2 linked regions of the Homo sapiens genome follow. The protein of the gene in region 1 purifies or fractionates together with the protein of each later gene. This does not show direct contact. Each region holds a gene or a part of one and is shown on either strand. Other genes may lie near its edges.

Evidence for each region.
Region 2: the proteins of SLC23A3 (region 1) and PRODH purify together in Homo sapiens (affinity purification with mass spectrometry; 2 studies listed by BioGRID and IntAct, with this or other methods). This does not show direct contact.

The regions. Positions count from the first base shown.
Region 1 is NC_000002.12:219,159,365-219,173,848, reverse strand, and holds SLC23A3 (solute carrier family 23 member 3), read left to right. Parts: upstream 1-3,819; 5' UTR 3,820-3,864; coding exon 3,865-4,026; intron 4,027-4,170; coding exon 4,171-4,328; intron 4,329-4,442; coding exon 4,443-4,540; coding exon of another isoform or gene 4,541-4,564; intron 4,565-4,746; coding exon 4,747-4,820; intron 4,821-5,015; coding exon 5,016-5,197; intron 5,198-5,530; coding exon 5,531-5,654; intron 5,655-5,804; coding exon 5,805-5,919; intron 5,920-8,426; coding exon 8,427-8,680; intron 8,681-9,510; coding exon 9,511-9,616; intron 9,617-10,293; coding exon 10,294-10,461; intron 10,462-11,454; coding exon 11,455-11,550; intron 11,551-11,644; coding exon 11,645-11,940; 3' UTR 11,941-12,384; downstream 12,385-14,484. Other genes in the region: protein CNPPD1, read left to right, coding at 382-499, 721-1,263. UniProt on the Homo sapiens protein: Acts as a sodium-dependent hypoxanthine transporter. May show xanthine-hypoxanthine exchange activity.
Region 2 is NC_000022.11:18,915,923-18,931,341, reverse strand, and holds part of PRODH (proline dehydrogenase 1, mitochondrial isoform 1 precursor), read left to right. Parts: intron 1-143; coding exon 144-352; intron 353-5,619; coding exon 5,620-5,654; intron 5,655-6,141; coding exon 6,142-6,291; intron 6,292-8,162; coding exon 8,163-8,227; intron 8,228-8,408; coding exon 8,409-8,525; intron 8,526-8,937; coding exon 8,938-9,017; intron 9,018-9,918; coding exon 9,919-10,000; intron 10,001-11,543; coding exon 11,544-11,636; intron 11,637-11,744; coding exon 11,745-11,891; intron 11,892-12,850; coding exon 12,851-13,026; intron 13,027-14,353; coding exon 14,354-14,452; intron 14,453-15,419. UniProt on the Homo sapiens protein: Converts proline to delta-1-pyrroline-5-carboxylate.

The sequences.
Region 1 (14,484 bases):
GCAATATAGCAAGATGCCTGACCCTACCAGAAAAAAATACTAGCCAGATGCAGTGGTGTACACCCATAATCCCAGCTACTCAGGAGGCTGAGACAAGAGGATCATTTGAGTCCAGGATGTTGAGTCTGCAGTGAGCTATGATTGCACTACTGCACTCCAGCCTGGGAGACAGCAAGATCCTGTCTTAACAAAATAAATAAATAAAAATAAATAAAATATAGGTCTTGGTCTCACCCTTAGTTTCTAGATCAGCAGATAGCCTAGGAATCTGGGTTTAACAGGCTTCCCAGTGTTTCCTGGTGGGTCCTGAGTGGTATGAGGGTGCCACTGGGCTGGCTGCAGGACAGTTGCATACTCTTGTCATTTCTCCACTTCCCCCAGTGTGGCTGAGCAGCAGGGACGGTGGCGAGGCTGGTACACCTACACAGACCTGTGTGTGCTGCTGGAGCAGCCGACCTGGCAGTTGGCCCTGGGCTCCCTCTGCCAGCGGCTGGTAAAGGTGAGGAGGGGCTCGGAAGGATAGGGAGCTTGAGCAGGCCGGTGTGTAGGGTGGGATGGTGTGAAGTGATTGCTGAAAAGCCCAGGAGATGGGGTTGGGAATAGATGGGCAGAGTGGGGTGTAAATGGCTATAGAGACCTCCAACTGGAACACAGATTTCTAGAGACAAGGGGTGAATGTGTTAAAGACAGATTCCTTCTTTCTTATCTCCTCTCCTGCAGCTGTCTTGCCTGTTAGCTGTGGCATATGTGAGCAGTGTGGCCCTGGCTGTGGCATCGGTGGCCGTAATACATCAGTCTTTGGGGCTGTCCTGCATCCCTACACCTGGGCCGCCTGACCTTGGACTGACCTCCCGTTGCCTCCTGGAGCCCTGCATACCTTCTGTGCCACAATGCCTGCCGTCTCTCGCTAATGTCTCCAGCTGCCTGGAAGGCAGCATGGGGCTGCGGTCACTCTGGGGCAGTCTTCTGGCCTCACTGACTCCTCCACCATTGCCTCCCCCAGACCCCCCTGCCCCTCCCACTCTTCTTCATAACTGCCACCTTTGCCAGAAGCTCCAGAGAGACTCCCCAACCTGCCATGCCTGCCTCCACCCCAACCGTACAGTCCCCACTGCGCTGTCCAGCCCCTGGTACCATACCTATGGCCTGGCTCCCCCCTGGCCTTGGAGCCCGGTGCTCCTTTCACTTCCTCAGCCTCAGCAATGTTCCCTTTTCAGTGTCATGGAGCTGGCTCGCCTCAAGTCTTTCGTTTTCCCAGGCTAGGTAGGGCTGTGAGGAATGCATTAAGAGGGTTTGGGAGTTTCTGAGAACCTGGAGGAGCAAAGCTTGATTCAGATCCTGTCTGCCTCGCTGGGTCCTTGGCAGGTCCCCTGTCCTCCTGGGTGGGAGCTTATGGGGTGGTGGGGCAGAAGGACTGAAGGTAATTCACTCCTAGATCGCAGTGGCTGGCTGCTTGGCCAGGACAGTGATGCCGCCAGGGAGAGCTTCCGCTTGGTGACCAGGGACATGTCCCAGATGGACATAGAAGCCCCTCTCTGCCTCCCTGGGATTTTTTAGACTTTTACTTTTGATTTCCCTAGGATGGAAGAGTATAGGTGGGAGATAAGGGAAGTGGGGTGAGAGGAGAAAGGAAATGTTGGCATGGGCCTGTGTGATGTCCCTGAGGCAGAAGAGCCGGGGACTGATGGGTTCAGGTGGGAGCTGCTGGGTGAGGCAGGGAACCCTTTTCACTCCCATTCCTTAGCTTTAGTCTAATGGAGCCAAGGACTGCTGGGACCTTCAACCCTGATCTTTTGTCTTCCAGTCTTCTCTTAGTGTCCTGCTCCTAGGTTTCCCTCTCTTCTGGTTCTTCTCCCAGGTATTCTCTTCCCAGGCCTCTCTGGCCACTGCTTTGTATCAGGGTTTTTCACGCTTTTGTAGAACTGAGGTTTCAATAAACAGTTTCAGTTGCATGGCCTGGACTTTTCCTTCTGCGGCAGCCCTTGAAGATTTTTCCTCCCTGTATCTGCCTTCCAAGCCTCCCTGCTTCCTGATCCTGTCATCTCACAAACTGTTTTCTCAGCCTCATCTCAGGACTTTCCTATCGTTTGATAGGCATAGGCTTCCATTTCCAACTTTGTTCCTGCTCCCAGGACCCTGGGCCCTAGCACTGCTCAACTTGGGATGCCATGGGACACACATGGTGACTGTCCTGTCCCTGAGTTGGCCTTGTCTGTCACTTGTTCTGGGTAAGCACTCTCCTTGTGGATCCCAAAGCACATCTCGTGGAGAGGGGCCAGGCCTTGTAACCAGCAGAGCCTTGTGAGCTCCTGAGGGCAAGCCACGAGGACGCTTCTCTCTCCTGACCTCCTCACTGGTCTGACACATGGTGATGGTCACATGGTGCTTAACAATTCCAAGAACTTGAAGAACTCCAAGGCTGGGTCATCACTGGAGGAAGGAAAACAGTCTGGGCAGCTTGGCTGAGGGTATTTGGGACTGCTGAGGATACTTCACGGAAGAAGTGGTTCTGCCCCCTAGGGGGCATTTTGGAAATTTATGGGCTATTTTTTCATTGTCAAAAGGATTCAAGGGGATGGGGTGCTACTGGCATTTCGTCAACCTGGGCGGGATGCTAGACATCATGAAATGCTCAGACCTCCCGTACTGTGAAGAATTCCCAAGACAACTTTTGAATGACCAGCTTTATGTATATGAAAACCCTGTTTATCTGAGCCTAGAACTGTCTTTGCACATGTAAACGTGAAATAGCGTTTGTGCGTTTTGAAAAGACTCAGTTTGCTAGGAATTCATTCCCATGTAAATTAAGACGACTTTATTTTGCTTGGCACCTTAACCAAGAGTTTGTTTGCCATTTTGAAAATCGGGTTACCAACATCAGAGTCACCGATAAAGCACCAATATCAGCTGGCATTGCAGCTATTGCAACCACAGCAATTCTCATAGGGTGTGGGATTGGACTACTTCATTGTACTTTATTGTCTTCTGGTTTAGTTGTGCTTAAGCCTTCACGTAATGAAATACATGTTATTATAAATTTTATTCTTTACAGTGAGCATGTTTCAGGTAGTTGTGGTTGTCACATGTGATGTAGGATATATTGTCCACAAGTTTCTTTTTTTCTTTTTTCTTTTTTTTTTTGACACAGTCTCACTCTGTCACCCAGGCTGGAGTGCAGTGGCACGGTCTCAGCTCACTACAACCTCCGCCTTCTGGGTTCGAGCAATTCTTGTGCCTCAGCCTCCCGAGTAGGTGGGATTACAGGGATGTGCCACCACATCCAGCTAAGTTTTGTATTTTTAGTAGAGATGGTTTCACCATGTTGCCAGGCTGGTCTTGAACTCCTCACCTCAAGTGATACACCCAGTTCGGCCTCCCAAAGTGGTGTGATTACAGGCATGAGCCACCATACTGAGCCCACAAGTTTCATTTTGAAGTAGTCCAGGGGCCTTGGTTCTGAAAGGGGTGAGGACTGTGGATCAAATAGTGATAGTTTTAAATGGGAGGGAATAAAGTCTGCAAAATTTCCCCATATTATTTTGAAGAGCTCCTCTCCTCCCCACCCCTCCTATCCTACTTTCTACAGCCTGGTCTAGGGGCAGGAAATCTGGAAGAAGATTCTCGGGGGAGGGCCCCAGAACTCAGCTCCCCAGTTAATGGCTGATGGAATTTGCACAACAGCTGGGCAAAGGTGAAAGGGTGGTGCCCTGCCCCAAATTCCTTATACCTTTGCTCCGCTTCATTGACACCCCCACCCTCTCCCCACCTTCTCCCCACCCCAGGCTTCACCCAAACTCTGACCTCTTACTCTCTCTACTTAACTCTGGTCCCGGGCAGCCAAGACAAAGCGAAAGGCAAGGCAGCATGAGCCGATCACCCCTCAATCCCAGCCAACTCCGATCAGTGGGCTCCCAGGATGCCCTGGCCCCCTTGCCTCCACCTGCTCCCCAGAATCCCTCCACCCACTCTTGGGACCCTTTGTGTGGATCTCTGCCTTGGGGCCTCAGCTGTCTTCTGGCTCTGCAGGTAGGAGGCAGAGGTGCAGGAGTTGGTGCTGCCTGATGGTGTGTGTGGGGAAGTAGGTGTAGATGTGGCATGTGAAAGCCTCTGGAAGTATTGTAGGTATTTCCACTTCTCTGAAGACTGCCCTCCCCATTCCTCCACCTGCAGCATGTCTTGGTCATGGCTTCTCTGCTCTGTGTCTCCCACCTGCTCCTGCTTTGCAGTCTCTCCCCAGGAGGACTCTCTTACTCCCCTTCTCAGCTCCTGGCCTCCAGCTTCTTTTCATGTGGTATGTCTACCATCCTGCAAACTTGGATGGGCAGCAGGTGAGAGGAACCTCCCTGGAGAGAGGGGCAGAGTCCTGGAGGGTAGGAGAGGTTTGGGGGAGCCTTGCTGGCTGCCACATAGTCCCAGACCTGCTGGGGCTGCTGTTCCTACAGGCTGCCTCTTGTCCAGGCTCCATCCTTAGAGTTCCTTATCCCTGCTCTGGTGCTGACCAGCCAGAAGCTACCCCGGGCCATCCAGACACCTGGAAACTGTGAGCACAGAGCAAGGGCAAGGGGTAAGGGTGGGGCTGGGTTCTCATCTGAGCATGCAGGTGTAGGTGGGTGCAGAATTGAGATTGGGCAGTGGTGAGACTGTGACACTATAGGGGGCTTGGACCTGTGCCAGGAGTGGGACTGTAGAGCAATGGGTCTCCATTCCATTCACCCTTCTCTTCTCCATGCCCCAAACTTTTCCTAGCCTCCCTCATGCTGCACCTTTGTAGGGGACCTAGCTGCCATGGCCTGGGGCACTGGAACACTTCTCTCCAGGAGGTGGGTATCTGGAGGTGAGAAGGGATAAGGGTGGTGCCAGGCTTGGGGGGGGCTCTTGTTTCCATTATGCACAGACTGAGATGCTCCTGGAAAGGAGTTTTGGGAGGAACCCATACTTAGAATTAGGAAGACCAGGCTGAGGCCAGTTTGATTGAGCAGAATGTTTTCTCTCCATCCTCTCCTCTCTTCTACCAGGTGTCCGGGGCAGTGGTAGTATCTGGGCTGCTGCAGGGCATGATGGGGCTGCTGGGGAGTCCCGGCCACGTGTTCCCCCACTGTGGGCCCCTGGTGCTGGCTCCCAGCCTGGTTGTGGCAGGGCTCTCTGCCCACAGGGAGGTAGCCCAGTTCTGCTTCACACACTGGGGGTTGGCCTTGCTGTACGTGAGTCCTGAGAGGCGTGGGATGGTGCCCAGTGGGGGTGTATGGGGGGACTAGGGGAGGGCAGAACTGCTGGTCCTATCAGATTCAGCAGCGACTGGAATAGGGACATATTTTATATTTGGAATCCAAGACTTTTCCTTGATTCATCTGGTCTCCTTGAATTTCACACTGTTTTCTGCTGTCCCCCAAGGTCACTTCCTATTCCTTCCATGGGAGTTTCCTTCTCTGGTATCACCCCCCGCTCTTATGATATTCTGCCCACTCCCACCTCCTTTCCCATCCCTCAGGATACCCACTGCCTCTTGCTCCTAAAGCCTTCTGTCTCCTAGGGTTATCCTGCTCATGGTGGTCTGTTCTCAGCACCTGGGCTCCTGCCAGTTTCATGTGTGCCCCTGGAGGCGAGCTTCAACGTCATCAACTCACACTCCTCTCCCTGTCTTCCGGCTCCTTTCGGTATGTGTGGGTCTGGGCAGGGCAGTAGAGGTCAGAAGGGCTGGCCTGGAGTGCTCACTCCATCCCCTACCTTTTGGCTTCTGTCTACCCCTGCAAGGCTGGCTCAGAAGGTTCTGGGGGAGGAGTTCTTTTCTCAGTCTCGCCCCTCAGGTGCTGATCCCAGTGGCCTGTGTGTGGATTGTTTCTGCCTTTGTGGGATTCAGTGTTATCCCCCAGGAACTGTCTGCCCCCACCAAGGCACCATGGATTTGGCTGCCTCACCCAGGTAGGTTTTCTCCTAGTCCTCCATTCTCTTGTTCAAATAAAGGTATCTATTTGAACTCAAAGAACTTAATGGATTTTATTTCTGAGTTAAATCCTGTGTTTTTTGAAAACATATAGGAGAGAGAAATTATCAGTCTGAGAGACAGACAATGCTAGCCCCTCACTGTAGGTGTTTTTTTGTTTGTTTGTTTGAGACAGGGTCTCACTCTGTCATACAGGGTGGAGTGCATGGCGTGATCATGGCTCACGCAACCTCAACCTCCCAGGCCCAGGTGATCCTCCCACCTAAGCCTCCGGAGTAGCTGGGACTACAGGTGTGCTTTTTTTTTTTTTTTTTTTTTTGTAGAGACAGGGTTTCACCATGTTGCCCAGGCTGGTCTCAAACTCCTGGGCTCAAGTGATCTGCTTGATTAAATGCTGGGATTACAGGCATGAGCCACTGTGCCCCATCCCACTGCAGGTGTTTTATTTGGGTCAGTGTTAGGAGACAGACATCTGTTGTTTCTGTAACCCCCGATACTCACTACCAATACTCCTTACCCAATGAACACATTTATGTTACCAGCCCCTATGGGCATTTGACTTGGCAACCTATGTATAAAGATTGCTTTTGAGGCATTGTATGTGAAATTTGCTCATTCTTCAATTTATTTATTTATTTAATTTACTTTTTGGGACAGGGTCTTGCTGTGTTACCCAGGCTGAGAGCATTGATGCAAACATGGCTCACTGCAGCCTCAACCTCCTTGGCTCAAGCTATCCTTGTGCCTCAGCCCCACAAGTAGCTGGGATTACAAGCGTGCACCACCATGCCTGGCTAATTTTTGTGTTGTTTTGTAGAGACGGGATTTCGCCATGTTGTCCAGGCTGGTTGTTCATTAATTTAATAAGGATCTGTTGACTGCTGATTATGTGCTAGGCACATGGTAGAGGACATAGTGATGAACATGACAGAAACAGTACTTGCCTTCAGGGAGCTTACAGTCTATTGGGGAATACAGATACTAATTAAAGAGTCACCCGAGGAAATATAAAATTGCCATTGTGGGAAGTGTAACCAAAGGGAGATACATTGTGTCCTAAGAGCTTATAATGGAGGCCAGGCACAGTGGCTCACACCTATAATCCCAGCACTTTGGGAGGCAGAAGCAGGAAGACTGCTTGAGGCAAGGATTTCGAGAGCAGCCTGGGTAATAAAGCAAGACTCCACTCTACAAAACATAAAAAAATTAGCTGGGCCTAGTGGCACATGCTTGTAGGCCTAGCTACTCAGGAGACTGAGGCAGGAGGATCACTTGAGCCCAGGAGTTGGAGGCTGCGGTGTGCTATGATTGCACCACTGCATTCTAGCCCAGGCGACAGAGTGAGACCTTGTTTATAAAAATAAAATAAAATAAATTAAAATAAAATAAATAAAATAAAATAAAATAAAATAGCCAGGCACCATGGCTCACACCTGAAATTCCAGCACTTTGGGAGGCTGAGGTGGGAGGATTGCTTGAGCTCAGGAGTTAGAGACCAGCCTGGGCAACATAGTGAGACCTCGTCTCTATTAACAGTATAAAAAATTAGCCAGATATGGTGGCATGCACCTTTAGTCCCAGTTACTTCAGAGGCTAAGGTGGGAGGATCGCTTGAGCCCGAGAGATTGAGGCTGCAGTGAGCTATGATTGCATTACTGCACTTCAGCCTGGGTAACAGAGCAAGGACCTGTCTCAAAACAAACAAACAAACCAAAAAACTTATAATAGGGAATTTGAATTTATCAGGGAGGTCAGTAAATTTTTTTTTTTTTTTTGAAATGGAGTTTCACTCTTGTCGCCCAGGCTGGAGTGCAATGGTGTGATCTTGGCTAACTGCACCTCCGCCTTCCGGGTTCAAGTGATTCTCCTGCTTCCACCTCCCAAGTGGCTGGGATTACAGGCATGCACCACCATGCCTGGCTAATTTTGTATTTTTAGTAGAGATGGGGTTTCACCATGTTGGCCAGGCTGGTCACAAACTCCTGACCTCAGGTGAGCCACCTGCCTTGGCCTCCCAAAGTGCTGGGATTACAGGCGTGAGCTACTGCACCCCGCCTAAGTAAGGATATTCTTGAGGATGTGGCCACTGAGTTGAGATGGAAGAGATGAGTAGGAGCTAACTAGACAAAGGCAGGAGGGAAGCGCATTCTAGTTGCAGGAAACTGCATATGCAAAGGCCCTGTGGTGGCTGGGAGCACAGCATGTACAAAGGCCTACAACAAGGCCAGTGTGGCAGGAATGAAGGAAGTGAGGCAGAGTGTGCTGGGAGATAAGGCTGCAGAGAGAGGGAAGGGCCAGACCAAAGAGGACCTTGTAGACCATGGTAAAGGCATGGGTCTTTCTCCTTAGAGTTCAGTAGTTTTGTCCCAAGACATTGTCTTCAAAGACATTGAGGCATCTAGGATTCTTGTGGCACAGGCTGTTGGAGGCAGGGGGTACTCCTGACTTGAGTCTGGCCCCAAAGTGGCTTCTTCTCCCTCCCCAGGTGAGTGGAATTGGCCTTTGCTGACGCCCAGAGCTCTGGCTGCAGGCATCTCCATGGCCTTGGCAGCCTCCACCAGTTCCCTGGGCTGCTATGCCCTGTGTGGCCGGCTGCTGCATTTGCCTCCCCCACCTCCACATGCCTGCAGTCGAGGGCTGAGCCTGGAGGGGCTGGGCAGTGTGCTGGCCGGGCTGCTGGGAAGCCCCATGGGCACTGCATCCAGCTTCCCCAACGTGGGCAAAGTGGGTCTTATCCAGGTACGTGGACCTGGGATGGGAGTGGGGTAGGATGGAGCTAGAGGGGAAGAAGAAGGACAGGAACTTACACCGATTGATTGCCAGGTGTGCCTAGCACCTCACATCAACTATCTTACTTGGGGAGGTGCCTAAGATTAGACTTTGGGCTAAGAGAGTGGGGAAGTGAACAAATCACCACGGAACTCCTGTGCATGAGGCACTGTATCAAGGCTAGGGCAAAGAACCAGTCACATAAAGTTCTGCTCTCTTGGGGACTTCATAGAGGGAGAGGCAGACAGTTGAAGGAAAAAAGTATCTTTTTAAAAAAGTGGGCCAGGCATGGTGGCTCACACCTGTAATCCTAGCACGTGGGGAGGCTGAGGCAGGCAGATCACTTAGGCTAGGAATTCAAGACCAGCCTGGCCAACATGGTGAAACCCTGTCTCTACTAAAAATACAAAAATTAGCTGGGCATGGTGTTGTGCACCTATAATTCCAGCTACTCAGGAGGCTGAGGCAGGAGAATCGCTTGAGCCTGGGAGGCAGAGGTTGCTGTGAGCCGAGACCGCACCACTGCACTCCAGCCTGGGCGACAGAGCGAGACTCCATCTCAAAAAATTAAAAATTAAAAAAAGAAAAGTGAAGAAAATTTCAGAAGGCAATAAGTGCTATATAAAAAAATCAGGGTAGTGGGATGGAAAGGAGGCACGTTTAGATAGACTGGCCAGGAAGGCTTCTTGGAAGAGTAACATTTGAGCTGGGATCCAAATGATGAGAAGGAACCAGTAAGGCAAAGACCTGGGACAGTCTGAGGAAGTGGCTGTGTTTTCCAGTGTCTTTTCTTCATGCAGGCTGGATCTCAGCAAGTGGCTCACTTAGTGGGGCTACTCTGCGTGGGGCTTGGACTCTCCCCCAGGTTGGCTCAGCTCCTCACCACCATCCCACTGCCTGTTGTTGGTGAGTGGATGTATCAACAGGGCTGGTATTGAACTGCTACTCCCCAGTGTGGCCTGATCAGTTCTTTAGGATGGCACCCTTTCCTTCTAAATAGCTTTCCTGGATGGATGGGTGGATGGATGGATGGATGGATGGATATGAGCATGTGTCAGCCTCAATTTCTCAGCCCAACATTTTGGTCTTCTCTTGATTGGGCTTCTGGGCTTCCTGAAGAATCAGAAATCAGCCTCAGGCTGGGCGTGGTGGCCCACACCTGTAATCCCAGCACTTTGGGAGGCCCAGACAGGCAGATCACTTGAGGTCAGGAGTTCGAGATCAGCCTGGCCAACATGATGAAACCCTGTCTCTACTAAAAGTGCAAAAATTAGCTGGGCGTGGTGGCACATGCCTGTAATCCCAGCTACTCGGGAGGCTGAGGCAGGAGAAATCGCTTGAATCCGGGAGTAGGAAGCGGAGGTTGCAGTGAGCCGAGATTGCACCACTGCACTCCAGGCTGGGCGTTACAGTGAGACTTGCTCTCAAAAAAAAACCAAAAAAACAAAAAAACAAAAAAAACAAAAATCATTCTCTTGGGTTTTATTTGTTTCCCATTACAACCTGCTTGCCCTGCAATACTCCATGCTATGTGAGCCCCCTTGACTCCTCCTGACCCCCTTGATTTCTTCTGTATGAGACAGGTGGGGTGCTGGGGGTGACCCAGGCTGTGGTTTTGTCTGCTGGATTCTCCAGCTTCTACCTGGCTGACATAGACTCTGGGCGAAATATCTTCATTGTGGGCTTCTCCATCTTCATGGCCTTGCTGCTGCCAAGATGGTTTCGGGAAGCCCCAGTCCTGTTCAGCACAGGTAGGTGGAAGGGAAGAGGCGTTGCTCAGTAGCAGGAAAGCAAGTTGAGGCTTCAGGCTGCCCGGACTCCTGGCCCCACAGCCTTCTCTGGGCTTTGGTGTAAATACTTCATCCATTTGTTTAACAGATATTTATTGAGCACTATGCTAGCCATTTGGAATACAAAGATGCCTTCCGTTATTACAGCGTAGTACAAGAGATGAGATGTGTAGGAAAATAACAGGAAAGGTTCAGATAAAGAGCTACAGTGCTCAGTGGCAAGAGAGATAGCTTCTGTTTGAGGTGATCCAGTAACAGAGCTGGTCTTGAAGGATGGTAAGTTTTAAACATCTTTGGTGAGAAGAAGGTCATTCCTGATGGAGGAACCATCATTTATGCAAAGACACAGAAGTGGGAAGTCTTAGGATATGTCCTGAGAGCAGTAAATTGCTTAATTTGTCTCACCCAGTTCTCAACTGGGTGATTTTGCCCCCATGGGGACATTTGGCAATGTCTGGAGACATTTTTGGCTGTTACAAATGGAGGAAGAGGGAGTTGTTACTAGGGTTTAGTGGATAGAAAGATGCTGCTAAACATCCTACACTGTACAGGACATCCCCCCTGCACCACCACCCCCAACAAAGAATTATCTGGTCCAAGATGTCAGTAGGACTGAGGTTGAAAAACCCAGGATAGAGCATAGAGGGTAAAAAATGGGAGATGAGGTTGGGACTTAAATATTACGCTTTCTAGAGAAAGGGAACCTGGAATAGTCAAAGCATATATGGAGGGTGTGTGGATGATCAGAACACAGGGTGTTGAGCAGGAATCCTGTGGGAAAGGCCTGGATTTGGAAAGTGGAGAGTAGAAAGACAAAGGGTGAGAGGGATGAAATGACAATTCAGAAAGATCTGTCCTTAGTCCAAGGCTTAGGTTTAGGTCTGGGAGGGTAAGACTCCTGGGCTTGGATATAGGATCAGAGTTCCCTTCCTGCCTGGCCCCAACTCTTCATAGGCTGGAGCCCCTTGGATGTATTACTGCACTCACTGCTGACACAGCCCATCTTCCTGGCTGGACTCTCAGGCTTCCTACTAGAGAACACGATTCCTGGTAAGTTGAGGCTAGGCCCTAGCAGACTGGGGAGTGGCCAGGAAGCCATCCCTCCCTGGGATGGGCAATAGCCTGACAAACCTCTCTTTTGCAGGCACACAGCTTGAGCGAGGCCTAGGTCAAGGGCTACCATCTCCTTTCACTGCCCAAGAGGCTCGAATGCCTCAGAAGCCCAGGGAGAAGGCTGCTCAAGTGTACAGACTTCCTTTCCCCATCCAAAACCTCTGTCCCTGCATCCCCCAGCCTCTCCACTGCCTCTGCCCACTGCCTGAAGACCCTGGGGATGAGGAAGGAGGCTCCTCTGAGCCAGAAGAGATGGCAGACTTGCTGCCTGGCTCAGGGGAGCCATGCCCTGAATCTAGCAGAGAAGGGTTTAGGTCCCAGAAATGACCAGAACGCCTACTTCTGCCCTGGTTAATTTAGCCCTAACTCTCATCTGCTGGAGAGTCAGCTCCCAAACTGTTCTTTCTTGTAGGCAGAGGATATGTGTGTGTGTATTACATGGGACTGTCTAGAGGTTCCATTTCCCAATAGGGTGGGTTGCCTTTCCTTGTCTTAATTAGGCCTAACTGTTCCAGAGCAGAGGCCATGATTTAGTGGACCATGAATGATTGAGATTTTGCCTGTGTACTATCAATGCCACTTGAACCCCAGCATTCACTTTAATACTTACTGAGCATCTCCCATGTGCAAGGTCCTGGAACTACAGGGATAAGACAGGGTCCATGCCGTCTCAAGGCATTTACGGTTTAAAAAGACCTTTGTAATTACTAACGAAAATGCAAAGCAGAAAGCAGTCTGTAATAAAGATTAAAATAATGCCGTGGGAGCAAAGAGGAAGGGATAATGAATTCTGATTGGGGACAGTGGGAAAGGCTTTATGCAAGAAGCAATGAGGATGGCCTTGACAAATGAGGATTTTTGGTTTTGGAAAATGGATGCAGAGAAGTTTTCAGGTTCGGGGTCCAGCTTGAGCAAAGCCATGGGTTGTACAAAGTCCAAGATAGGTGAGGGGTTTCAAATTTCTCAGTAGTGAGGGAGTATAAGTACGGGGATGATGGAGAAATGAAGCAGGAGAGGTAAAGGATGAGGTCGGACTATGGGACTTATGCCTGGGAGACTCCTTCCTTCAACAACTCTAGTGCTGGTGGAGGACCTGAGAGATCATCTACAGAAGTTCAATCCCTTATTTTGTTAAAAAGAGACCGGATAGGTAGGGGAGGGAAGAGAAGTGACTCAAGTTTGACAAATCCAAACCTGGGCTCCCCTCTCCTGCGCCTCGCCCGCTATTCTTTCCACTCGGCCAGCGTGACTCCAAGACGCGCCACTACCCTTCTACTAGCCGGCTGCCCGGCCTCTCCTCCACTTACCCTGGCCACTGGGGCGCTCCTCTCATCAGTGTCCCAGGCCCAGAAGCCCCGCCCACGCCAGGCATAGGCCCCGCCCCTGTATCCCAAGACCCTGCCTCCTCTTGCGGTGGGGGGAAAGCGGCCTCTTACTCTAGGCCTTTCGGTTTGCGCGAGCGGGCAGGAAAGCGTGCGTGCGGCTAAGAGAGTGGGCGCTCTCGCGGCCGCTGACGGTAGGTGGAATCGCGTTCGAGTCCGGGCAGGAGCAAGCCAGCGAGGGGCTGCTCAGACGCTGCGGGTTGGCCCTGGCGCTGGCCTTTTCTCCCTGGAGGGAGCGCGCGCTGCCGGGGTCCAGGGCAGGCCTCCGGGGGAGGGGTGGGCGGGGCCGCGCGTGCGCAGTCCGCTGGCTGCTGCCCGGCGTGGATGGTAGGGCTCGAGTGAAGGTACTCGTTGGTCGCCTGTTTGGTGCGACGAAGCCGCTGGTGGCCGGCTTTGTTGCCCCTTGAAGCCGCGCCCCAGTGCAGCCAGTGCTGTAGAAATGGGAAGGCGGACAGCGAAGGCTGTTATAGCTGGGGCGGGTGGAAGCGGGACGCCTGGCGGCTCCTGGGGTGGGGCTATGGTTGTGGTGGGACCTAGGGTTCGCGCTGTCCCAGGGGGACCGGGCGGGGCCCAGCCGGGATGCTCTCTGGGCCTCTACTGCCCTCTGCAGGGCGTCGGAGGAACTGCCCAGAGGGGTCACTGCTGAGGAGCGGACTCGGTGCAGATAAAGGTTCTCAAGGGACCCCTCCGCCGGGATGCCGCTCAGCGCCCCTCCACTCAAGAGAAATAAACCCGTGAATCTCGTTAATGTGAATGTTAGAGGCAGCCTTGAAGGAAAAAAGAAAAGGATGAAGTGTAGAAGCTTCGGACGCAGAACGGGACGCGTGTGGTGGGAGCAGGCAGCCGGGGTCTGGTGCCCAATGTGTCAGGCCTTTTTATAGGGCCCGTTACTCCTGGCCACATTTTAAACTCCTCCCCCTTTACCCAACAGACAAACAAAACCCATCAATTTGAGGGTTCTGAGCTTCCGGGCTTTCCGAAGGAATGGGCTAGAATAGTAAACCCAATTTTGGCAACTGTTAAGAGTACACTGGGGAGTGCCTATAAGGGAGATGAAAGTGGCGACTTTATTCGCGTTTGTGACCTTTGGCATTGTGGAGCTCTTGTCCGGCTAGGACTAGCTTAATCATCCCATGACCACTTCTGTCCCCATAAGAGCAGCATGTGGGAAATGTGACGGAAACACCATCCTCCAAACACAAGGCTTTGAGGATGCCATAAAGAAAGATCACCACGTATATGTATATATATGCATATATATATATGCATATATATATGCATATATATATGCATATATATATGCATATATATATATGCATATATATATGCATATATATATAAAGTTATGTCACAAGTCACAAGGGCACACTTCAAAAGCTAGGGGAAATGACTGTGTTAATCAGACTTAATAAGGAATTTCATTATTTACATTCTAAATTTTTCCTTCCTGGTACTTCTGTTCATTTTATATTTGTAGACTGGAATAATG
Region 2 (15,419 bases), on another chromosome or scaffold:
ACTGACCCTGAAAGCCCAGTCGCCAAGAGACCATATCGAGGCCCCATGGCTGGGGTGAAGTGTGGTCGGGGATGAGCAGCGGTGCCTTGCTGGGAAAGGAGAGTTCAGGCAGCCCAGGACAGCGGCTTCCCTTTGCCTTTCAGCTGCTGTATGTTTCCAGGAAACTTCTAGGACAGAGGCTATTCAACAAGCTCATGAAGATGACCTTCTATGGGCATTTTGTAGCCGGGGAGGACCAGGAGTCCATCCAGCCCCTGCTTCGGCACTACAGGGCCTTCGGTGTCAGCGCCATCCTGGACTATGGAGTGGAGGAGGACCTGAGCCCCGAGGAGGCAGAGCACAAGGAGATGGAGTAAGGCCTGCCCGGTGTCTGCGGGCTTTCTGATCATGACCCTGGAGCACCCAGTGGGAGCAGGTGGGATGTATCCAGCTGCTGGGCTTCAGCCTCAGCTGGGCAGAGGCCAAGGCTAGGAGAGCTTGGTCAGCCCAACTACCGATGACCCTCCTGGGCTCTGCCTGGAGTTCTTGCATTTTTGTTTCATGCGGTGGACAGCTCTGGGCTTTCATGGGAGGCCTGGTGTGCGTGAGGCCTGAGGAAGCAGAGTACAGAATGGCCCTTGGCCCTATCTAGTCCACCGCCTGGAGGAGCACAGGCACCAGCATATGAACCAAGCACTCTGCAAAGAATGGTTGGTCTCGCCTGGATCTCACATGAGCCAGGGACTGCTCCAGGAAGTGGAGGGAAACGTGGTCTTGTTGTTCTGTCCTGATGCCCTGCCCAGGAGGGCGGGTCAGGGTGGTACCAACTGCCCTCTACACTCACTGCCCAGGGAAGGGGCCTTGTATCAGCTTAGTGGCCTCCAGGAGCTGACTCCAGGCCGGCCTGCTACACTGCTCCTGGCTTCAATTCCCTTCTCCACTGACAATGGGGCAGGGGCCAGGCCTGGGAGGTTCCACAACTGCAGGGCAGGCTGAGGCCAGGCAAGGGTCGGGCAGTGGGACCTGCCTGCGGGTCAGGAATCCCTGCAAAAGAGAGGCTGTAGCAGAGCCTCCTCCATCAGGTCAGCAAGTTTGTGTAAACAGCCAGGTAGCACAGACTCTCAGTCGGGCCACACCCTCCCTGCCACAACGGCTTCACTCTGCCTCAGTAGGGCCATAGTAATTAGAATTTCATATAATTTTCTTGTGTCACAAAATATTATTCTTGTTTTGATTTCTTTCAACCAGTTTTTTTAAAGTAGGGTCTTGCTCTGTTGCCCAGGCTAGAGTGCAGTGGTGCCATTGTTCACTGCAGCCAACCTTCTGGGCTCAAGTGATCCTCCCATCTGAGCCCCCTAAGTAGCTGGGACCACAGGCACGCACCACCATACCTGGCTAAGTTTTAATTTTTTTTTGTAAAGATGGGATCTCCCTATGTCTTCCTATGTATTTGGGTCCCCTGCACCCTGACAGCAGCCGGGCCTGACCCACATAAGGCTTGGGACAGTCCCTCTGTGGACCTGGTCAGGCCTTGGTGGTTGTTCCTGCCCCTCCCCTGGTGGCTGGCCTGGGAAGGGGAGGGAAAGGCAGTCACATGAGGCCTCCAGCCCTGGGAACGGAATGTCTGAGGCTTGCCTCAGCATGTCGGCTGCCAGCTGCCTGGAGAGGATTGGCCAGGGGAGCCCAGCCCCTGCCTTGCGATTGGCTGTTTTGAAGGTGGGGTACTACAGCCCCAGCACCCCACTGTGTTCCTAGCAGGCCCCGTGGGCCTTGCAGCTGCCTGAGCTCTTGGCTGCAGCCTTTGCTGAGCTGCCTGTTGAATAACCAATGGCCTGTGTGTTCTCAGAAGGAGTCTGGGTGGGGACTTGGTTTCACAATGGGATTTTCCTCTCAGGCGCCTCTGGTATGAAAAGACTCCTTTCCCAGGGTGGTCCTGCCTGGCTTCCTCCCTGCCCTGCAGGCTGAGTGTCTGGAGGTGGACTGGCCTGCACTCTGCCAGGGGGCTGGGCACCTGTGTCCTTAGGAGCTTGAGTCCTTTGCCCTGCAAGGGATTCACCTGTCTTGCTGCTGGTGGCTGCTGTCTGCAGGGGTCCTGCTCCAGCTCTGGGAAGTGAACAGGGTTCCCTCCTGTCCTCACAGGGGTGCATGCTGAGGACACCTACCGAGCTCAGCTGCTTTGTGCTTTCAGAGGGGCCTGAGCCATGGGGGTAGGGCTGGGTCTGCAAGCACTGGTCTGATGTCCACACTGCAGCATGGCCTGCTTGGCCAGGAGTGACCAGTCACGCAGACCCTAGTGCAGGGAACTGCTTAGAGATCTGCCTTCCTAACCTACCCTCCTGTCACAAGGGCCATGGGCTCTACTCTGGGGAGAGACACTGAGGCCACCGCCCCAAATTAAGGCCATGGCAAGTGGTGCTGGCCGTGAGAGGCCCAGGGAGGATGGAGGCGTCTGAGTGCATGGCAAAGTGAGTCCCAGCAGTGCTCCCGAGAAAGAAAGAGGAGGTGGGAGCCTGGAGGTGCAGGAGGGCAATGCCCACCCGGGGGGGGGGTGGACCATGCTTCCCAGAGGCCAGGGCCCCACCCAACCCCAGGAGAGGAGTCCCAGGGATCCCCGAAGCAGGCTGAGGGCTTGGGGATGGGGAAGGGGCCAAGGCATCTTCCTGATGATTGGGCTGTGAGGGAACACCTAGGGGGTGGATGGGGGCATTGGTCTGGCTGTGCAGGCCCAGGGCTGGCTGGAGGCAGGATATGTGTGCAGTGAGTGTCCTGAGCGAGGGGCTGGGGAGGCAGAGGGTTGGGGAGCTGGGGAGGGGGGTACAGGTAGGAAGCGGCTTGCCAGGCTTCCCTCCAGGAGAGAGTTGGACAAGGGCGGGGTGTGGACCCCCATGCTCTGCTTGTTTCAATAGGCATCACGTCCCCAGGGACAGCCACCCAGAGCTGAGGTGGAGGCTGAGGGGGTGGTCAGGGTCTTCCTGCTGTCTCTGAAGACCCCCTGGGGACACGTGCTTGTCCTCCTCTGCCCTATGTCCCCTTGTCGCTCTTCCCTCCTCTGTTGTCCCAGGTCGTGCCCATGTGTGCGATCATGTGCCCTTCAACAGACTATGCCCTGGGCATGATGAGGGGTGGGACTGGGGGAGCACGAGGCAGGTCCTGGCTTTAAGGAGGCATTGGGATGTGGTCCCCACCCTGATCAGGGCCCCACATCCACTGGTTCACCCTTCCTCCTCTAACACCCCACAGCTGCCAGTGCCATGTGCCCCCCTCTTCCCTGTGGTGCCTTGAGCCAGGACGTGGCAACGTCCCAGGTGGCGAAAGCCAGATTTCCTGTGTGGCACCCGCAGTTCTGAATCAGCTGCTCCCAGGGTGCTTTCTTCCTCTTCTCCAGTGGAAATAGGACCCCTGACCTGCCTGGGAACCACCATTTGTGTCTCCTTGTGACTTATCCATGATGCCTGTTGGAGAGTGTGGCCCTGTCCTTGCTGCGTAGCCATCCACTCTGAGACCTGGCTGCCCCTCTGGCCACTGCACGTGCTGTGTGGTCATCTTGGCCACTGCTTGGCTGTGTCAGCCTGGTCTGTGCTCTGGAAGTTCACGGAGAGGAGCAGCGGTAGCCTATGGTGTTCTGCCTCTGAGTGTGTCAGAGCAGGAGAGGGAGCAGCCCTGGCTTCCCCAGCCTCTCCTGCCAGGCCCACCTCAGAGGATGAACACAGCAGCTGTGGGAATGCTGAGCGGGAACTCATCTGCCTGGGGACCTGTCAGATAATGATCCTGTTTCATGAAGGTGAGCTGCCTCACAGGCAGACACCTGTGTGGTTAAGTCCCGTGTTATCCAAACTGTGGGCTGTGTGGTTTCAGGATGGGACCTTCTCTTCAGGGTCATGGAGGCCCCTGAGGCCCTGTCCCCACTGTCTGCTGTTACTTGCCATGAGGGTTTCTGCCCTGGGCAGGGCCCTGGCTGCCACCCCGGCCTTAACATAGACAGTGAGTCCCCCTTGGGGATGGCTTTTCCTGGCTGTACCTAAGCCTTGGCGTGAAGGTCTTAGGGCTGATCTCATGACTGGTCTTGAGGTGCCCAAGCCAGGGGCCCAGGAGCTCCCTGTCTCAGGCAGGGGTTCACGTGCTGCCTGCCTGTTCCCTAGTCACATGGTGACATTCCACCCTCTTCTGTCACATCTCTGTCAGCATAAGGTGGCCAGAGCATATCTGCCTGCCAGCTCCCATCACTGGGCTGCAGCCTCAGGGGCCCTGGCAGCACATGTGGAGTCCCTGGCCCATGTGGGGCTGCCCAGGAGTGGGTGGGAGGGAAGGCCTCCTGGCGGGGGCTCCTGGCCCAGGGCTTGCTCCTTGAGCAGCCAGGTGGAAAGTGGGCAGCTGAGGCCCCTTGACATGGAGGCCTCTGGGATGCGGCTCACTGACCACTGCTCTGCCTTTCCCCTTCCCGGCATCTGAGGGGGACCCTCTCCTTTCCTGTGAGTGTGGGCAGAGCTGCCCCTGAGGGTCCGAGCGCCTCTGGGGAGCTTCAGGAAGGCTCTGGGTGCTGTTGGTCATGCAGCTGAGCTCTCTCCGTGGTCACTGACTTGATCAGGTTTGAATATAAAGTCAGGTGACCCTCAGAGCTGCTCCGGGGGCCAGGGAGACCATGGTCGCTTTGTCACAGCAGACTTAACGGCCGCAGCAACTCTTGCTAGCCTGGATGACACAGCACTGAAACCAAGTGCCAGAAGCAGATTGTGGCTGTGGGGAGGAGGAGGAAGAAGAGGAGGCTCTGGCAGGGGTGCAGGGCTGGTGGGGGAGGGGAGCCAGGTACCCTAGAGAAGGGAGGGGCCAGGGGGAATGGGGGTGCTGGCCAGGCGGGGATGGAGAGGCTTCTGCAGGAAGGACAGGGGCTTGGCTGAGCAGAGTGTGGCCAGCCTAGCGGGGGACAGCCTGCATCCTGGCCTCACTGGTCTTGAGGTGCCCAAGCCAGGGGCCCAGGACTTTGGGCATTACTAGGAAATGATGGGAACCCTGGGTGGGGTGGCGTGAAACAAGATGAGATGGTAAGATCTGCTTTCACTTTAAAGGAACATTTCTGGTTGTTGCTTGGAAAAGAAGTGTCGGGGCAAGAATGCTACAGGAGGGCCGGCCTGGAGGACAGGGCGGGACTGCAGGGCTGGCTGTGCGGGGGCAGGAGCCTGTGCTTGCATCAGAGCTGCCTGGGAGACCCTGGCTCTGGGGTGGAGGCCTGAGTAAGGGGGCCTCGCTGGGGATTTGGGGACCTCTGTGTGCTGGTGCCTTCCCGCCTCCGTTCCTCTCAGCCCTGACTGGCTCTGTCTTGGAACCAGGTAACTACCTTTATTTGAGAACCTGCTGCAAGCCCTGGGCTGTTCTGAGAGCTCAGGAATATCGTTCTGATTTCTCCACCCACAAGGAGCCCCGGGCTTCCTGAGCCCTTGGGACACAGCAGCCCCATAAACTGCTGCCCCTCCCAGGCCCAAGTGTTCCACCCCAGGCTAGGGGTGGGGCTGGGGCTGCACCTTGGAATCTACCCTCCACCGGGGTTGTGGTGGGGCCCTCCGTGCAGCCTCAGTGGGAACGTGCCTGTCACCTGAGGCTCAGGTGGCGTGACCCTGACCTTTGCTCTCCCCCTCCTTCCCACAGGTCCTGCACCTCAGCTGCGGAGAGGGATGGCAGTGGTGAGTGAGAGGCTGCCGCGCAGGAACAGACTCCCTCCCGACTCCGCACACCCCTTGGTGGCTCAGGAGAGTCTAGGCTGGGGCACAAGTGGGCCTTGGGGTGACGTCGGAGCCCGGGCTCCTCCCTATGTCCAGGGCACCTGCCCTGTCGCTCTGGGCTCTGACATACTCGCAAGTGTCTGGGGAGACGCCCTGCTCCTTTTTCATGGCCTCCTGGTGGACCTAGGCCTTTGTTAAGGAGACTGCCGTCCTGGCCTCATGAGGAGGCTTAGCCAGGGGGATGCAGCACTCCAGGTGGAAGAGCCGCGGTGTAGACAGGAGGGTGGGCTTGGGGATGGGAACCATGGGGCAGTGCAGTGCCAGGGCCAGGCTGGCAAGGCCACTATGCTTGGAGCCCTCCTGAGGGCAGGGGCCCTGGGCTATTGGTGTGTGGGTGCTGGGGGTGGGTGTTTGGAGCTGTGCTCAGGCCGTGCATTCGCTATTCCAGGCACGAATAAGCGGGACAAGCAATACCAGGCCCACTGGGCCTTCGGGGACCGCAGGAATGGTGTCATCAGTGCCCGCACCTACTTCTACGCCAATGAGGCCAAGTGCGACAGCCACATGGAGACATTCTTGCGCTGCATCGAAGCCTCAGGTGGGGCCCCCTCTTTGCTGGCTATACCCCTGCCATGTCCCAGCCTGAGCGGACCCCTGGGCTCATGGAGGTGCCGGTGGGTGAACACTAAGCTGGGGCAGGAGCCAGAGGGCTGGGTTCTGACCACACTTGGGTCCCTCACTGTTCAGCCCCTTCCTGAGGGGCCCCACTGCCTCCCAGAAGGCATCTCCTCTCCTGCCCCAGCTCCCTGTTCCCTGATCCCGCCTCATGCCCCCCACCCTTCTCCCTGGCTCAGGGCCAGGATCGGGAGCTGCAGGAAGTTGGTCCATGTCAGCTGCCGAGCCACACTTAGCCCAGGGTGGAGGTTCCATTCAGGGAGCTGGTGCCGCATCTTCTGTCCTTCCCTGACACAGCCTCTGGGGGCCAGCGGTGGGGGCAGCAGGTGTTTCCAGGGATAGAGAAGCCAGAGGTCAGCAAGGCCCAATGTCCTTCAGTGTTAGAAACATCCGACCTGCACAGCCCCATGCTGGCCCCAGCAGCCCTCCGTCAGGGGCAGCGGGTCCCAGGCCTGTTTATGTTTTTGTTTGTTTGCTTCAAATGAGACTGGATCTTGCTCTGTCACCCAGGCTGGAGTGCTCACGCCTCTAATCCCAGCAATTTGGGAGGCCAAGGCGGGTGGATTGCCTGAGCTCAGTTCAAGACCAGCCTGGGCAACATGGTGAAACTCCGTCTCCACTAAAATACAAAAAATTAGCCGGGCGTGGCAGCAGGCGCTTGTAATCCCAGCTACTTGGGAGGCTGAGACAGGAGAATCACTTGAATCCAGGAGGCGGAGGTTGCAGTGAGCCAAGATTGCGCCACTGCACTCCAGCCTGGGCGACAGAGTGAGACTCCATCTCAAAAAAAAAAAAAAAAAATGAGGTCTCACTATGTTGCCCTGGTTGGCCTGGAACTCCTGGGCTCAAGTGATCCCTCCACCTTGGCCTCCCAAAGTGCTGGGATTACAGGCACACACTACCACACCCAGCTAATTTTCATATTTTTTGTAGAGATGGTGTTTCACCATGTTGCCCAGGCTGGTCTCAAACTCCTGGCCTCAAGCGAACCTTACACTTTGGCCTCCCAAAGTGCTGGGATTATAGGTGCATGCCGCTGCACCTGGCACTTCTGAGCAGTGCTTGGAAGCCGCCTCCTGATGGGGGCTGAGGGTCAGAGTGGCCAGCTGAATGCTGGGCCATCAGGGTGAGGGGCGTCTTCTCCTCGTCCATTGCCTGTTCTCCCAGGGCAGGTGGAAGGGGAAGGCCCTGCATTGGGGTGGCGTGAAACAAGATGAGATGGTAAGATCTGCTTTCACTTTAAAGGAACATTTCTGGTTGTTGCTTGGAAAGAAGTGTCAGGGGCAAGAATGCTGCAGGAGGGCTGGCCTGGAGGACAGGGTGGGACTGCGGGCTGGCTGCACGGGGGCAGGAGCCTGCGCTTGCGTCAGAGGTTCCTGAGAGACTCGGTCTCTGGGGCAGAGGCCTGAGCAAGGGGACCTCGCTGGGGTGTCTCTGTCTTAGCCACGCTCGGTGTTTCTGGGTCCTGTGACCCACGTGTGAGCAGCCTGTGGTGCTGGTGGCACAGGGAAGGAAACCGAGGCAGGGAGCCTGTGGGGGCTGCTTGGCAGGGGACAGGCAGCTCCTGTGCCCACTGCTGTCCCACACCTGCATGGAAACAGAAACCCCGCCACGGAGCCCCCTCCCATCTCCACAGGGCCTCTAGAGCGCCATGTGCAAGGACTTCATGGGCGGGGTGGGGTGGGGTCAGGAGCCTGCTGTGGGCTGGCCAGGCCCTGGCCCTCCCTGTCGCACCCTGCGCTGCCTCCATGCACCTCTCAGGGCTGTCATGGCTTTTCCTGTGGCTTCTGACAGGTAGAGTCAGCGATGACGGCTTCATAGCCATTAAGCTCACAGCACTGGGGAGACCCCAGTTTCTGGTAAGTGCTAGAACCTTCCACCTGCAGAGTCTGGTGCTGTGCGAGATCTCAGGGCAGCTGTGGGCATCCACCAAAAACACAGGTGCCCATGCCTTAGAGGCCTGAGCTGGCCACAGGGGCTGTGTGGGGGACTGGGGTGGGCAGGGGCGTGTGCAGATGGCATTCAGGCCTGCGTTTGCAGCTGCAGTTCTCAGAGGTGCTGGCCAAGTGGAGGTGCTTCTTTCACCAAATGGCTGTGGAGCAAGGGCAGGCGGGCCTGGCTGCCATGGACACCAAGCTGGAGGTGGCGGTGCTGCAGGTGGGGCAGCCTTCCCCTTCCCCACTCCTGTGGCTTGTGAGGGGGTGGGCACCGTGGGGTCACACGGGGCATGGTGGGCAGTGGTCGGAGGTGGTTTTGGGAACTCACCCAGGGCATGTGGCTCACTCTGCAGCTGCTGGGGTTGGCCTGGTGGGGAGGAGGAGGTCAGAGGGACTCTGAACAGAGAGGGGAGATGCTGGCAGGAGGGCTGGAGACCCAGCCCTGCAGGGCGTGGGCGTGCATCAGCAGCGGGGTGGGAATAGACCTGTCTATGCAGTAGAAACAAACCAGACATGGATCCTGTTCTTACTAACGATGTAATAAAGCCAGAAACAGCACCAGAGGCCAATGGGTGGGGGGAAGGATAAAATATGAGTGAATGGGGCTGATCCAGGCCTTCTCACTTCTCAAGGAAAGTGTCGCAAAGTTGGGCATCGCATCCAGGGCTGAGATTGAGGACTGGTTCACGGCAGAGACCCTGGGAGTGTCTGGGTGAGAGCAGCCCCCAGGCTGAGAGGACACGAGCATCAGCCATGGTTCCAGCCAAGCCCCAGTGACGTCTCCCAGTCCTGGCTGCCCTGCCTGAGAGGGTGGGCCCTGGGATGACAGTGCTGAAGGAACTGCTTTTCACACAGCAGGACTTGATGGCTTCAGGAGTCCCTGAGGCTGGGGCTGGGCTGGGCAGGGGAGACACAGGGCCAGCACAGACCCCATAGAGGGCTCTTTATAGAATTATCTGGGTCCAGAGCAAAGGTGGCACTCTCAGCCCTCCCTGGAGTCCACGCCGGCAGGTGAAGGATCAGAGCCCCATGCCCCATCCTTGGAGCCAGGGGCTGGGACCCAGATCACCAGGAGCCTCCAGTTGAAGTGGGGAGGTGACTGGGGTGGTGCAGTAGTGAGCCATCCCCTCACACACTGCCAGCCTTGCCCACTGTGTCCTCCCTGGCCGCCCGGAGCTGTGTCCGCCTCCTGCCTGGCTGCCTGTGCTCGGCCCCTCCACAAGCCCAAAACAGCCTAGGGTACTCAGTGTTTTCAGAGCCGCCTAGATGCAGGACTGTTTGTGTTTTGGTTTTAAATTTATTTAATTAATTTATTTTTTATAGAGACCAGGTCTCACCATGTTGCCCAGGCTGGTTTCAAACCCCTGGGCTCAAGTGACCTGCCCGCCGCAGCCCCCAAAGTGCTGGGATTATAAGTTTGAGCCCCCGCATGCCACTGGTTTTAAATTTTTAAACAGAAAACAATATTTATATTTCCTCTGTCTTTTAAAACTGAACACCGAGGTGGGTTTTGTGGTGGGTGGTGAACGGACAGGTTTGGGCCTCGATCCCCCACCCGACCCTAGCACCCACAGGTGGGGGTGCCCCCTCTGCTGATGCGCCTCCTCCCTCAGCACCATGGACCTGCTGGACTGGAGCAGCCTCATCGACAGCAGGACCAAGCTGTCCAAGCACTTGGTAGTCCCCAACGCACAGGTAACACCTCCGCTCCTCAGTGAGGCCCAGCTCAGCAGGGCGCTGCGCTAAGAAGGGAATTCAGCCTGCCACGTGTGTCTCTTGTTGCCTACCCTGGGAACTTAACATGACCAAAATCACTGCACACTATGGCCCCACAGACCCCCTGTGGTCCAGGGGGAAGAAGACAAGCCCACTAGTGTCCACAGAGTGCTTGGCGGGACAGAGACCCACGCGGAGCCTTAAGACACCACAAGGAGAGGGGGTCTGGGGGCCTTCCCCAAGTCATCTGTCTTGTGCATCAGGTCACCCCAAACTTCAGAGGCCTGAAACGGCAGCAGCCACTCTGCTTCTGCCTCATGGTTCTGGGGTTGACAGGGCTCAGCTGGGCAGTCCTCCCCTGGGGTCTCCTGGGTAGCTGTACTCACAGAGTGGTGGCGCTGGGACCTGGGGGAGGCACCCATTCACATGTCTGGGAGTTGGTGCTGGCTGTGGCTTGGGCTTTTTCCCAACATGGCAGCTGGGCTCTAAGGGCCAGTGTCACCTGAGACGTGAGAGCCAGGCAGAAGCTGGGTGACCTTTTCCTGCCTCGCCTCAGAAGTCACACGGTGTCTTTTCTGGCAAGTTCTGTTTGTTAGAAGCATGTCACCAGGCCAGCCTGTATACAGCGGGGAGAGGAATGAGACTCATCTGCCTGTGGGAGGGGGGCCCAGGACCTGGCAGACTGCTTGAAACCACAGCTTAAACTGGGATTCAAAGAAAGAACAGAAGCACCTTCAGAAAACATCCTGCAGAGGCAGCTTTCCATGACACATCTAGCCCCAGTCCACTAAGGGCCCAGCCTCAAACTTAGAGCCCCCGACCCAGAGCCTCGGGGCGCAGTGCGTACAGTGTGGCTGTGCACCAAGGCCACCAGCTGTTGGAGACTTTAGCATGGTGTAGCAAGGGATAGAGTGGTACTGTTTGTGCCCAGTGAGGCAAGGCTGCTGGGGCCAGCAAAGGGGTGAGCGGGAGGCCCTGCGGGATGGGTCCCCACGGCCTCTGAGCACCAGCAACTTGAAGGCCTCATCCTGGTGGTTGCCCTGGTCCCTGGCTACGTGTCAGCACGTGCTGCACAACTGCCCTGTCTGCCTGTAGCCAGGGGTCTTCCTCCTGGGCCCTCTGCCTGCTCCGGGTGGAGCCCTTCTGTTTGACGATTGGGTGATCAGTGTTCACTTGTTCAATGTCACATGGGAGTTGCAGGGGGCTCTCCCACAACGGTGGGGCCTCTGTGGGAACTGGGGAGTACACACTTCGGAGTGCAGGCCTGGACTGAGCCTGGGGCCCACTGACATGGGCACTGAGCTCCCTCGTGGTACCCCTAGGCCCCGCATAGGGCAGTGCACTGGCTGCGTTGGAGGTTCAGGGGCACTGTGCTGCTTGTCCAGGTGGCCCTCCCTCCCAGCCCTGCACAGACGGGTGAGAGGGTTCCTGTGGGCTGGGAATACTGAGAGAGGTTTAGCCTGGGCCTCAGGGTGGCACTTTCCCGCCCTTGCTGTGGCCTGACCGCGTGTTGCACCCCCAGACAGGACAGCTGGAGCCCCTGCTGTCCCGGTTCACTGAGGAGGAGGAGCTACAGATGACCAGGATGCTACAGCGGATGGATGTCCTGGCCAAGGTGAGCTGTCCCGCTCGGGCAGAGGGTACCTGGGACTCGTGGAGAAGAGGGCACCTGCCTCACTTGAGCAACAGTTGCTCCCACTCTCCCACCCCCTGCGCCTCTCAGAAAGCCACAGAGATGGGCGTGCGGCTGATGGTGGATGCCGAGCAGACCTACTTCCAGCCGGCCATCAGCCGCCTGACGCTGGAGATGCAGCGGAAGTTCAATGTGGAGAAGCCGCTCATCTTCAACACATACCAGTGCTACCTCAAGGCAAGCCCCCGCTCAGCCCCTCCCTGCCTGCCCTGGGGCTTGGAGACCCCACAGGAGGGGCTCCTCTCATCTGAGCTCCCTGGCATTTGGCTGGTTTTACACTCAGCACCCACCAGGGAGCTCATGGGATGGAGGAGGGAGTGGGCCGTGCCCCCAAGGGGTTGTTGGGGTCTTCTGCAGCACAGCTCACCCAGCGGGCCCCAGGGTCCAGGAAAGAGCCCCTTAGGTGGTGGCCACAGCCAGGCCTGCAGAGGAGGCTGAGGCCAGGGTGACTGCCTCAGAGTAGCAAGAAAGACCCGCTGCCCGCAACCTCTCCCCTGGTTCTCAGAACCAGCCAAGAGTGTCTAAGGAGCAGGAGGAAGACAACAATCTTTATGAGGGTCCACTAGATGTACCCGACACCCCAAACTTGGAAGGTGTCACATGACCATTTCCTCCAGCGTGTTTTCAGTTCAGCGCCCCTAAGAACCTCCTGAAAGCTTTGGGCCCTCCCCGGAAAGACTCACCCAGGATGTCACATGTATTCAGGGAGCCCACCCTAGCCTTTGGGCCCCAAACTGCTCAGGGATGTTAGCAGGTCCAGAGCTCTCAGGGGTGAGCCGGATGCCCAGAGGACACAGGGTGGCATGGGGAGGGGTCCAGGCAGGAGCATGCAGTATGCACCCCTCCCGGTCGGCCTGGGAGTCTGGAGCACATGATGGCTGCTGGCGCCTGGGCTGCACCCACAGGGCCGTCCACAGGCCACACAGGAAGTTGCAGACGTCCCCACTGCCATTGCTCCTTGGGGACAGAGGTTGGAGGCCCATCCTCACCCACACCTGCTCCAGGTGCCCTGAGCTGCACCTCCCCAGGCAGCTGCTGCCCAGCCCTGGTGACTGCACCTGGGCCCAGGAAGGCCCCATCCTGCTGTCACTTGGGCTTGCCCAGGCTCCCTGTGACTTTTGGCCCTGGCCCCACAGGATGCCTATGACAATGTGACCCTGGACGTGGAGCTGGCTCGCCGTGAGGGCTGGTGTTTTGGGGCCAAGCTGGTGCGGGGCGCATACCTGGCCCAGGAGCGAGCCCGTGCGGCAGAGATCGGCTATGAGGACCCCATCAACCCCACGTACGAGGCCACCAACGCCATGTACCACAGGTGCGCAGCTCTCCCACCCCTCTGTCTTCTCAGGGCAGGGCGCCAAGAAACCAGGCCTGAGGGAGAGGCTTGGAGACTGAACTTGTCAGCCACATGTGTCCCCAGGTCAGAACTGGTATTTCCTCAGCTTTTATGTCATGTGTTACTTTTTCAAAAGCATTAAGGTTATTCTTTTATAAATATAGAAAAGCCTATTGAACAAAGCAAAATTGGCCACAGTTCCCTGAGCTTGCTCCTGCAGACACTTAGATCCAGAGATGTGCATGAACACCCGGTCCTCCCCACCCTGCAGGCTCAGCCTGTTTGCTTTTCAGTTCACACAGTGGGATCGCCCATCAGCTGTTCTGCACCTGCTTTTACTGCTCTAGTTTCTTGGTGATCTTTTCATGTAGCACAGGCTGGCCAACCATGGGCTTTTCCTCTTAGAGGCGTGTGTGCATGCTGCAAATTCAGAGAGACCCCAAGTGTCTCCTGGTTGGCTCCAGCTCCCCTCCTGCAGCCGCTGTGCATGTCGTGCCACAGCGCACACATCTCCGCCATTGTTTTTTGCGTTGTAGCGTGTCCTCTGCCCGATGTGTTTTTCATTTCGCGTTCCATCTGGGTCCTCTTGTGTGGGCTTGCAGAGTGGTGCTGTCAACAGCCAGCATGGAGTGCCCGGGGCTATGTGTCCAGCATCTTTGATCTTATTGGTTTTTAGTCTGGTTATTGTAATGGACTCGCTGGACATACCGTCACCCTCTGTGGTACACACGGGCCGTCAGGGGTTTTGTGTCTGAGGATGCAGCTGTCCTAGGTTGCTGGAAATGGAATTGCTGGGTCAGAGAGAACGTGCGTGTGGTCAAGCCTGCTGAGTGACCTCGCTGCAGGAGGGCCGTACTGCTCGGGCTTCCTGGTGCACCGGGATGCCCACCCCCACTGTGCCCTACAGGGACCTGCTTCCCTTTTATTTCCTTGCAGGGCCAGGGGTGCACTGTACGATCCCTCCCCAGAAGCAAAGCTGTGTCTGTCATGAGGCTCATGGGCATGTTTGGGCTGGTCCCCAGAGTCACAGCACGTTTGATGCAGGGACTCTGCCCCCACAGCTGGTTCTGCGTGAATTGTCTGGTCCCAGACATCGCTTTTGCTTGGTTGCTGGTCTTTCTTTTTCATGAGGTGCTGGGAGGGGCAGATGCTGCTCCTGTTCCTCCTGATCCTGTGGATACCCTTGGAAAGAGCCAGCTCAATGGATGGATCTGGGTCTGCCCTCGGCCTCCTCTCTGTGCAGCTGGTAATGAGAGGTGCAGGCAGCCACAGGCCTGGAACTGGGCTCACATGGCACTCTCCACAGGTGCCTGGACTACGTGTTGGAGGAGCTGAAGCACAACGCCAAGGCCAAGGTGATGGTGGCCTCCCACAATGAGGACACAGTGCGCTTTGCACTGCGCAGGTAGGTGTGCCCCACCCTGCACCGAAACCCCAACCTGAGCCGTTGTCTCCTCCGGCTGGGGAGAGGTGGCAGCAGCGCAGAGCTCAGGGTGGGCAGAGCGACCTGCTGGGTGGTCGGGCATTTGTGGGGAAAGGCTGGTGAAATGAGCTGGAGGGTGGCTTCAGTGGGCAGGCCCAGGCCCGCTGGCGTTCTGGACATCGGACTGTGAGAGCACAATGGCTTTTTGCAGTTACGTTGGTTTTTAAAATTAACTTTTTTCTTTTTTTGAGATAGAATCTCGCTCTGTCACCTATGCTGGAGTGCAGTGGCGTGGTCTCGGCTCACTGCAACCTCCGCTTCCCAAGTTCAAGCAATTCTTCATGCCTCAGCCTCCCAAGTAGCTGGGATTACAGGCATGTGCCACCACGCCTGGCTAATGTTTTGTATTTTTAGCAGAGACAGGGTTTCACCGTGTTGGCCAGACTGGTCTCAAACTCCTGGCCTCAAGTGATCCTCCCTTCTTGGCCTCCCAAAGTGCTGGGATTACAAGCATCAGCCACTGTACCCAGACTTTTAAAAATTAACATCTGACTTATTAAACTTCACAATTAAAAAACTAAATTTCATCAGGGTATTCGGATGGCTCCTGAAAGGTACAAATGCAGTGTTGGAGGCCAGTCCCTCAGGAGGCCTCCACAGTGCCACCTCATTAATACGCCCTTAACATTTTAACTACATCTGGAATGTAACGGTTTGTTTTCTCTTTAAACATTTGTCCCATGGAGCACAACTTCGGTAGAATTCTAACAAGTCAAATGCAGAAGTTAGGTGAAGTCAGTTCTTGGATACTCCTGTACTGTCACCCTGGTCTTATCTCATGCCTTAGTCCAAGCTATGCACACAATGGGGTCCTAGGTCCCCCTCCCCTCCCAGATTCCGCCTTCCCAGGGATGGGACCCCCTAGAACCCTCGGGGGCCTGGGCAGTGG